Linked DNA regions of Homo sapiens. The gene in region 2 interacts genetically with the main gene of each other region. Each region holds a gene or a part of one and is shown on either strand. Other genes may lie near its edges.

Region 1 (2,901 bases), on a different chromosome or scaffold from region 2:
CACCTAATTTGCTCAAAAACTCGTTTAATAATTTAGATCTCAATTTAAGTTTAAGATTGGAGACAACAAAAAACACTGGAGAAGCTTAATACCCCCCTCACTCAGGGTTCCTTAGAAAGCAGAGCTGACAGTTTTCTGTCGGTGCACTCGCACAGAGGCATTTCTCTGTGGGTGGATGATGCAGATAAAGCAGGAAGGACAGTATTCAAATGTCACTTACATATAAATGCAGCATTCCACGAAGCATCAAGTTCAGAATCATGTGCTGGGAAATATGAGACACCTCTGCTCAGCTTTCTTAAACTTCAAGCATAATTAACGGGGCAAATTGCAGCAAACCTCTACTGGTATGTTGATGGGAGTGCAAGACTGACCCACAGCTTTTAAAAAGGTAAATTAAGAGGTATTATAGTTACAGTGCAAAAAAAAAAAAATTAAAATTTCAAGCATAATACATAAACATAGCACCAAACAGGGGAAAAATGCATGCAAAAGAAAAGAAGAACTGAGGTATTTAAGTGAAGAGTGCCTACAAGTCTAATTAAAGAAACTTAGGCAAATGCCTAAAGAAGTTTTTTTTTTTTTCCTTTTCCAAAGATGGAAATAATGAGCTAGTTTATCTAAATTAATGACCTAAATCACAGATGTATCAAAATTACGGCAGTTTATCGCAAACGTTAAACTTTCACGGCATTAACAGCACAGCTTTGGTAGGTGAAATATGCATGCAACATTATGAAAAGTATAGTAAGAAATTTATGTGAGGAGACTAAGGGTAAAGGTGCTGTGTTTTGCTTCTTAAATAAGTAACCAATCAATTATAAAATCTGCAGCATATTTTAGGTGTGATATGTCTAAGGTTTATTTTGTTAGAGCAACAGCCTAGAAGGCAAAATTATTTGCCATAAACATTTCCATCAGTGGGAACTACCTGGCAGGAGGACTTTAGTAAAATGGGGTGTTTAGCCAAAGATCATTTTTATGATAAAAAATATCCGTAGACTACATATTCTGGTTTTTAAAATGTCTTCAGTATACATATGACAGAAATTTTAGTATGATCCTGTAATAAGTTACAACTATACTAGTGAGTTGTAAGTATCACGCTGTCTCAACGTCTAATGCATAATAAAATGAAAGGAATGTAAAACAGTTTGTTCCAAAAAGATCAGAGATTAAAGACTATCCATGAAGGTTTCACTTTTAAGGCAAGAACCCTTTTTTATGCAAGACTATGTGGCATCAGAAAACTAAAATGTGATTCACCAACATGCCAGCCAATGTTCATTAAAAATCTGTCCCTTACTATCAGGTGCAACAGCGACCGGGAACATCACCTTACACAGTATAACGTGGAAAGAAAAGACAACATTGGCGCACTTCTCCTCTCGAAAACCTTATCTTTCTATTCAGCTTATCAACTACTGCAGGACTGGCACTACTGCACACACGGAGAGATGGAGAAGAATCTACATCATCCTAGGGACTGCTGGAGGTTTAAGCTCCATGGCCTTCTAACACTAAGCAAAGCTGACATAAACTCAAAAAAAAAAAAACAAAACCTGTCAATTATTTTGAGCACTTGCTAAATGTCATCATTAAAGCACTCTTGTGATTTAAACAAAGCAGAAGTGAGGAAAGAAGATAAGATTGTGTTTGCGCAAAAAACTAAAACTACAATTAGTTCCAAAATTTTATACATATGTTAAATGTTTTATTCTGTTATCTATCCTGTTATCAACCAAACTTTAAATTCTGCCTTCAATTCATTCCACTCACTAACAACTTTAAGTCTTCCTTTCCGATTTAAATAATTTTCCCCTTAATTTTTTTTGTTTTGTTTCTTGTTTTGAATTTTAAAAAGCGGTTTCAGCTATTGGGAACCTGAGGTTGATTAGCTTTGAGGCTTCGGAGGGCTCTTCTTGCTGCTGCAGATTTGGCAATCCTGTAACTTCGACCAACACCTTTAAATTTCCCCTTTCCTACTACTTCCACAGTGACTCTGACCTTCCCGTCGTAAGTTCTCTCAGCCGGGCTGTAAAAAATCCAAACAGCTTGAATTAGAAGTCAGAAGTATTTATTATCATTGTCAATCAGCATTTAGTGTGCACTCTCAGGCCAGGAGTCCCATGTATAAGCTGACACCACACAAAGGAAACACGCGTTACGACTTACTGCAATTGCATACCCCCGACAGACAGGGCTGCCGTCTAGTCTTTATTACAGCATTATTTCATAAAAACAGAAGGAAAAAAGAGAAGTCAATCAGATTACAAACAGAAATCTGACAACAGCACACCACAGTGTAAATATTTTTCAGAATCATTAGTTTACAATATCTTTGTGAACTTTTCCCCTTTGATGTTTTTAAGTTAATGTTTTTTCCATGTACATTTTTTGCTTACCTAAATTTGGCAGTTTCTGGTTCCATTTCAAGCAATTCTCGCACAGGGGAACGGGGTACATTTGCAGAAAACTTTTCTGCAATCAAAATGAAAGAATAATATGAATAATATCTCTGAAGTTGTTTTTAATTTTGTGGGTTTTTTTCTTTCTAAAGGGAGCCAACAATACCTATTAGTGGCCGCATCATGGGATAGTACACCTGCCAGACTGTCTCCAGTGACATCCCACTATCCATGTAAATGGCACCAGCAAGCGACTCAAAAATATCCCCCATGGCCTTTGGAACTTCAATATCCTCTTCTTTCTCTTCATCCTCCTCAGATCTCCTAAGCTATTACAGAGGGAAAAGTGACTTGTAAGCAAAAAGGCCACTTTTACAGGCAGTCCACAGATGTAGTTTCTTTTCTTGGATATATGACTTTTGTTACTTCTTTAGTAAGGGGGGAAATACCATTTATGGTATGCCTACTATATTGTAATAGTAAAACAAATGTT
Region 2 (5,381 bases):
GCAGAAGTCCACAAATATGTAAAGAACCTAGCATGTTGGAGAACAGTCCGCCATTTGGTTTATTAAAATATATGATAGAATGTTGCTTACACTTGTTTTGAAAGGCTGTAAATATAATACCATGGAGTATGATTTTATTTTGTAGGTATTAGGGAACCCTTAGAGTTTGTAAGCAGGGTAATATGGTCATCTGTAGTCTCTGGGAATAAAACTGATGGTATAGAAGATGGTGTAGACTAAAAGCAAAGAGACCAGTTAACTCAGGTGCCCAAGCAAGGAATAAGACAGCTGTATTATTAATATTATTTTAAGGGGCCTGAGAGATCATATAATAGTCTTTATCCTTTATGGAGCCCTAGGATGCCTCAGGAGCCACATAGAAAGGGCAAGGATGGGAGTATATATAATGCTTTGGGCCCCTAAACTCCTCCTTATGTTTTAAATTTTTCCCTTTTATTTTCAGTTGACATGTAATAATTATACATATTTATGGGATACAGAGTGATATTTCAATACATGTATACAATGTGTAATCAAATCAGAGTAATTAGCATATTCATCACCTCAAACATTTATCATTTCTTTGTGTTGTGAACATTCAAAATCTTGTAGCTTTTTGAAAATACGTGGTAAGTTATAGCTAGCCATATTCACCCTACAGTTCTGCAGAACACCAGAACTCATTCTTCCTATCCAGTTGTAATTTTTTATCCATTAACTTGCCTCTGCCCATCCTCCCCTTCTCTCTACCTTTCCCTACTTCTAATACCCACAATTCTACTCTCTACTTCCATGAGCTCAAAAATTTTTTTTGGCTCCTACATATGAATGAGAACATGCCATATTTATCTTTCTGTGCATGACTGATTTTATTTAACTTAATGTCCTCCAGATTTATCCATGTTGCTGCTAATGATAGAAATTCATTCTTTTTTATGGCTGAATAGTATTCCATGGTGTGTGTGTGTGTGTGTGTGTGTGTGTGTGTGTAAAAAACACTTTTAAAATCCATTATTCTCTTGATGGACATTTCTCTTGATTATCTATCCATAGATATTATGAATGGTGCTGCCGTAAACATGGGGGTACAGATAAGTTTTTAACATAATGAGTTTTTTTCCTTTGGAGAAATACCCAGCAGTGGGATTGCTAGATTGTATGGTAGTTCTGTTTTTAGTTTTTTGAGAAACCTCCATACTGTTTTCTATAGTGTATAAAAGTTCTCTTTTCTCTTCATCCTCAACAGCATTTATTGACTTTTGTCTTTTTAATAGACATTTTAACTGGGGTGAAATAATATGTCGTTGTGGTTTTTATTTACATTTACCTGAAGATTAGTGATGTTGAGCATTTTTTCATATACTTGGCCATTCGCATGTCTTTTGAGAAATGTCAATTCTGTTCCTTGCCTACTTTTTAATTGAATTATTTTTGGTTTTGCTGTTGAGTTGTTTGAGTTCCTCGTATGTTCTGGATATTAGTTCCTCATCAGATGAATGAAACTAGATCCCTATCTCATCATATACAAAAATCAACTTAAAGTAGATTAAAGACTTAAGCATAAGACCCTAAACTATAAAACTACTAGAAGAAAACATAGGGGAAATGTTTCAGGACATGAACCTGGGCGAAGACTTTATGGCAAAGACTTCAAAGCACAGGCAACAGAAAAGAAAGTAGACAAATGGGACTGTATTAAACTAAAAGCTTCTGCACAGCAAAGGAAACAACACAGTGAAGAGACAACTTGCACAATGGGAGAAAATATTTGCAAACTCCTACTTAAACTAAAGAACCTCTGATTTTATCTGATATATACATTGGCCTTCTGAATATGTTTTGCTTGTTATATATACATATTCCATATATAAATATATATATTTGCATGTGTGTGTATGTATACTATGGCTAAAAAGAAGTTGGAAAACCACTTAGTAGCCTAACATTTTTCTAAGAATTTCTCAGATGTGTAATCATACAGCCCCTTCCAGAGTGCATGGGCGCTCATCATCACAAAAGAAAGTCAGTTCCATTGTTGATAAGTTTCCAGTTGATTACAGAGTTCTCCTGGACTGTAAATTAAGGAGTCTTATTAGTCTTGTACCCAGTAAACATTATGTCATTAACCTTACATTTCTATCCACAGAAATTTCCAGTTACAGTGTTTTCCTTTGTGGCTGGAAAGAGTTTAAATATGTGTATGCTAGTTTACCATATAGAATCAAAGGGTGGATGGAGTCACAACTCTGAATTTTTCAAGAAAAAGTCTTAAGTATTAAGCAAAAAACAACCCCATTTAAAAAATGGACAAAAGACATGAGCAGATATTTCTCAAAACATACTAGAGGCTAGCAAACTAATGAAAAAATGCACATCACTAATTATTGGAGAAATGCAAATCAAAACCACAATAAGATACCATCTCACAACAGTCACAGGGCTATTATTAAAAAGTCAAAAAACAACAGATGCTGATGAGGCTGTGGAGAAAAAGGAATTGCTTATACACTGTTCGTGGGAATGTAAATTCAGCCACTGTGGAAAGCAGTTTAGAGATTTTTCAAAGAACTTAAAACAGAACTACCATTAGACCCAGCAAACCCATTAATGGGTTTATATCCAAAAGGAAACAAATCTTTCTACCAAAAATCATGCACTTGCATATTCATTGCAGCACTATTCACAATAGCAAAGATATCAACCTAGGTACATGTTAGTGGTGGATTGGATAAAGAAAATGTAGTATATATACAGTATGGAATACTATGCAGTCATAAAAAGAAATGAAATCATGTCCTTTGCAGCAACATGGATGGAGCTGGAAGTCATTACCTAAGTGAATTAATGCAGGAACAGAAAACTAAATACTGTATATTCTCATTTATAAGTTTATAAGCTAAACATTGGGCACTCATGGACATAAATATACTGAGGACTTACTAGAAGAGGAGGGAAGGAGGGGGCAGGGGTTGAAAAACTATTAGGTAGTATGCTTAGTACTTGGGTGACGGGATTGTTTGTACCCCAAACCTCGGCATTATGCAATATACCCAGGTAACAAACCCGCACATATACATCCTCAAGCTAAAATAAAAGTTTAAAATGTTAGTTGAAGAATTGTGTAATGGGCTGGGTCCAGTGGCTTACACCTGTAATCTCAGCACTTTGGGAGACTGAATTGGGTGGATCGATTGAGGTCACGAGTTTCAGACCAGCCTGGCCAAAATGGTGAAACCCCATCTCTACTAAAAATACAAAAATTAGCTGGGTGTGGTGGTGGGTGTCTGTAATCCCAGCTATTTGTGAAGCTGAGGTGTGAGAATCACCTGAACCTGGGAGGTGGAGATTGCTGTAACTGAGATCATGCCACTGCATTCCAGCCTGGGTAATCTGGGTGATGGAAAGAGCCCTGTCTCCAAAAAAAAAAAAAAAAAAAAAAAAGAGAATCTAATGGATGAAAAATTATAATAAATATGTCTAAATACTCCTTTTAGAATATACGGCTAATAGGCTGGGTGCAGTGGCTCACGCCTGTAATCCCAGCACTTTGGGAGGCTGAGGCGGGCGGATCACGAGGTCAAGATATCAAGACCATCCTGGCCAACCAACGTGGTGAAACCCCGTCTCTACTAAAAATACAAAAATTAGCTGGGCATAGTGGCGCACGCCTGTAGTCCCAGCTGCTCGGGAGGCTGAGGCAGGAGAATGGCTTGAACCCGGGAGGCGGAGGTTGCAGTGAGCCGAGATAATGCCACTGCACTCCAGCCCAGGGGACAGAGCGAGACTCCGTCTCAAAAAAAAAAAGAAAAAAAAAAGAATATACATCTAATAATGGGAAGATGTTTGCTTTCTGATTCCAAGGATTTGCGGTTTTAAATTGACTCTCGTTTAGCCAGCCTCAAAGTATTTAGGCTAGATTTTTTAAAAAGTTTGCATGGTACAGAGATTCTGCTTTAAACTGTTGTCAGTGCTATTACTTTACAGATAACTTTGTCTTGCTTTTTATGTCTCACCAGCTACATTATTGAGCAGGGGGTGTGTTATTTGGTTTTATGTGAAGCTGCCTTCCCTAAGAAGTTGGCTTTTGCCTACCTAGAAGATTTGCACTCAGAATTTGATGAACAGCATGGAAAGAAGGTGCCCACTGTGTCCCGACCCTATTCCTTTATTGAATTTGGTAAGTTTTTGCCCCTCACTTCTCTCTATCAAGGGAGCAAACAATATGGAGAAGCTATTTGTTACACTGATATAATATTTATACATTTTTTCTGATGTTTACTTGCTGAAGTTTTAGCTTCTGCATCCTTTTCCATTCCACTTCTTTTTGTCTTTTTGAGTGACTAAGGCTTTGTTCTGAAAAGTAATTTTCTCTAGTCTTTTGATCTTTCCCCCATAGAAATTGTTGCCTTTTGCCCTTTCTGTTATTTGGTTTGATTCTTCTTTAGAGTCACATGTGACAGGAACTGTGCCTAAAGATCTACTTGATTGGCATATAATGGCTGAGTTCTTCTTTACCCCAGTCCACAGACTCACACTCACAATAAGGCTCATTTTATGGAGATCAGAATTGGGAAATCAGAAAGAATGATGTTTTGTTTCTTTTAGTAGAATAAGATCCTCTAATTAAAAAAACAAAACATAACAAAGAAATAGAAGATACCTGGTACTCATGGTATTGGGGTATAATATTTACTACATTCAGGAATAGTGAGCATAGGTGTCTGTATTTGTGCAAGAATTATAGAAAGACTAATTACTAATCAGACCTGGTAAAGTATCTGATGGTAAGGGATCAAAGGAAATGTCCTAAGTACAGTAAGTACAGGGAGTGAGAACAAGTAGGATCAGGCTATATCGCTGAAATTTTTAGTTAAAAGAGAAATTGGTTTTACTGGCTTAGAATTTTTGAAGTGTTTCAAGTTTGCTAGATAAATGGGTCATCTTGCTTTGGAAAAACACTCTAGTGTTTCATAACTATATACTCTCCAAGTGCTGCTTTATATAATGTCCAGTTTTTCAAATTTTATTTTTATAGACAGTAATACTCCCATAAACCTCCCTCAAAAATAAGACAAATGTATCAGGGTCATACAGGAAACAGATGGCACACCCAAATTAGCTTAAGGGATTATATACAAAGATATGACTAGGCTGTAGGAGAATTACAAGGTACAGTAACCTCTGACCAGTAGCATACTGGTTGTTACCATCCCTAGGCCTGAATGTATAAGGGGGAGGAGCAGTTTCTGAAACTGAAAAGGAGAAAATTTCTAGAGAAGGCCAACTTGAGAGGAGCGTAACTTTTGGTAGAGGGATACTTCCAGAAGAAGGTTATTTCCTTCTCTGAAAGAAGCCAGGGGAATAAATACCCGGACATCACT

What was found. A genetic interaction does not mean that the proteins touch.
Region 1: changes in SEC22B (region 2) and DICER1 together harm fitness less than expected from each alone (positive genetic interaction), as found in Homo sapiens cells (one large-scale study listed by BioGRID).

What each region holds. Positions count from the first base shown.
Region 1 is NC_000014.9:95,088,629-95,091,529, forward strand, and holds part of DICER1 (endoribonuclease Dicer), read right to left. Parts: intron 2,738-2,901; coding exon 2,575-2,737; intron 2,482-2,574; coding exon 2,406-2,481; intron 2,036-2,405; coding exon 1,870-2,035; 3' UTR 1-1,869. UniProt on the Homo sapiens protein: Double-stranded RNA (dsRNA) endoribonuclease playing a central role in short dsRNA-mediated post-transcriptional gene silencing.
Region 2 is NC_000001.11:120,162,006-120,167,386, reverse strand, and holds part of SEC22B (vesicle-trafficking protein SEC22b), read left to right. Parts: intron 1-4,016; coding exon 4,017-4,177; intron 4,178-5,381. UniProt on the Homo sapiens protein: SNARE involved in targeting and fusion of ER-derived transport vesicles with the Golgi complex as well as Golgi-derived retrograde transport vesicles with the ER.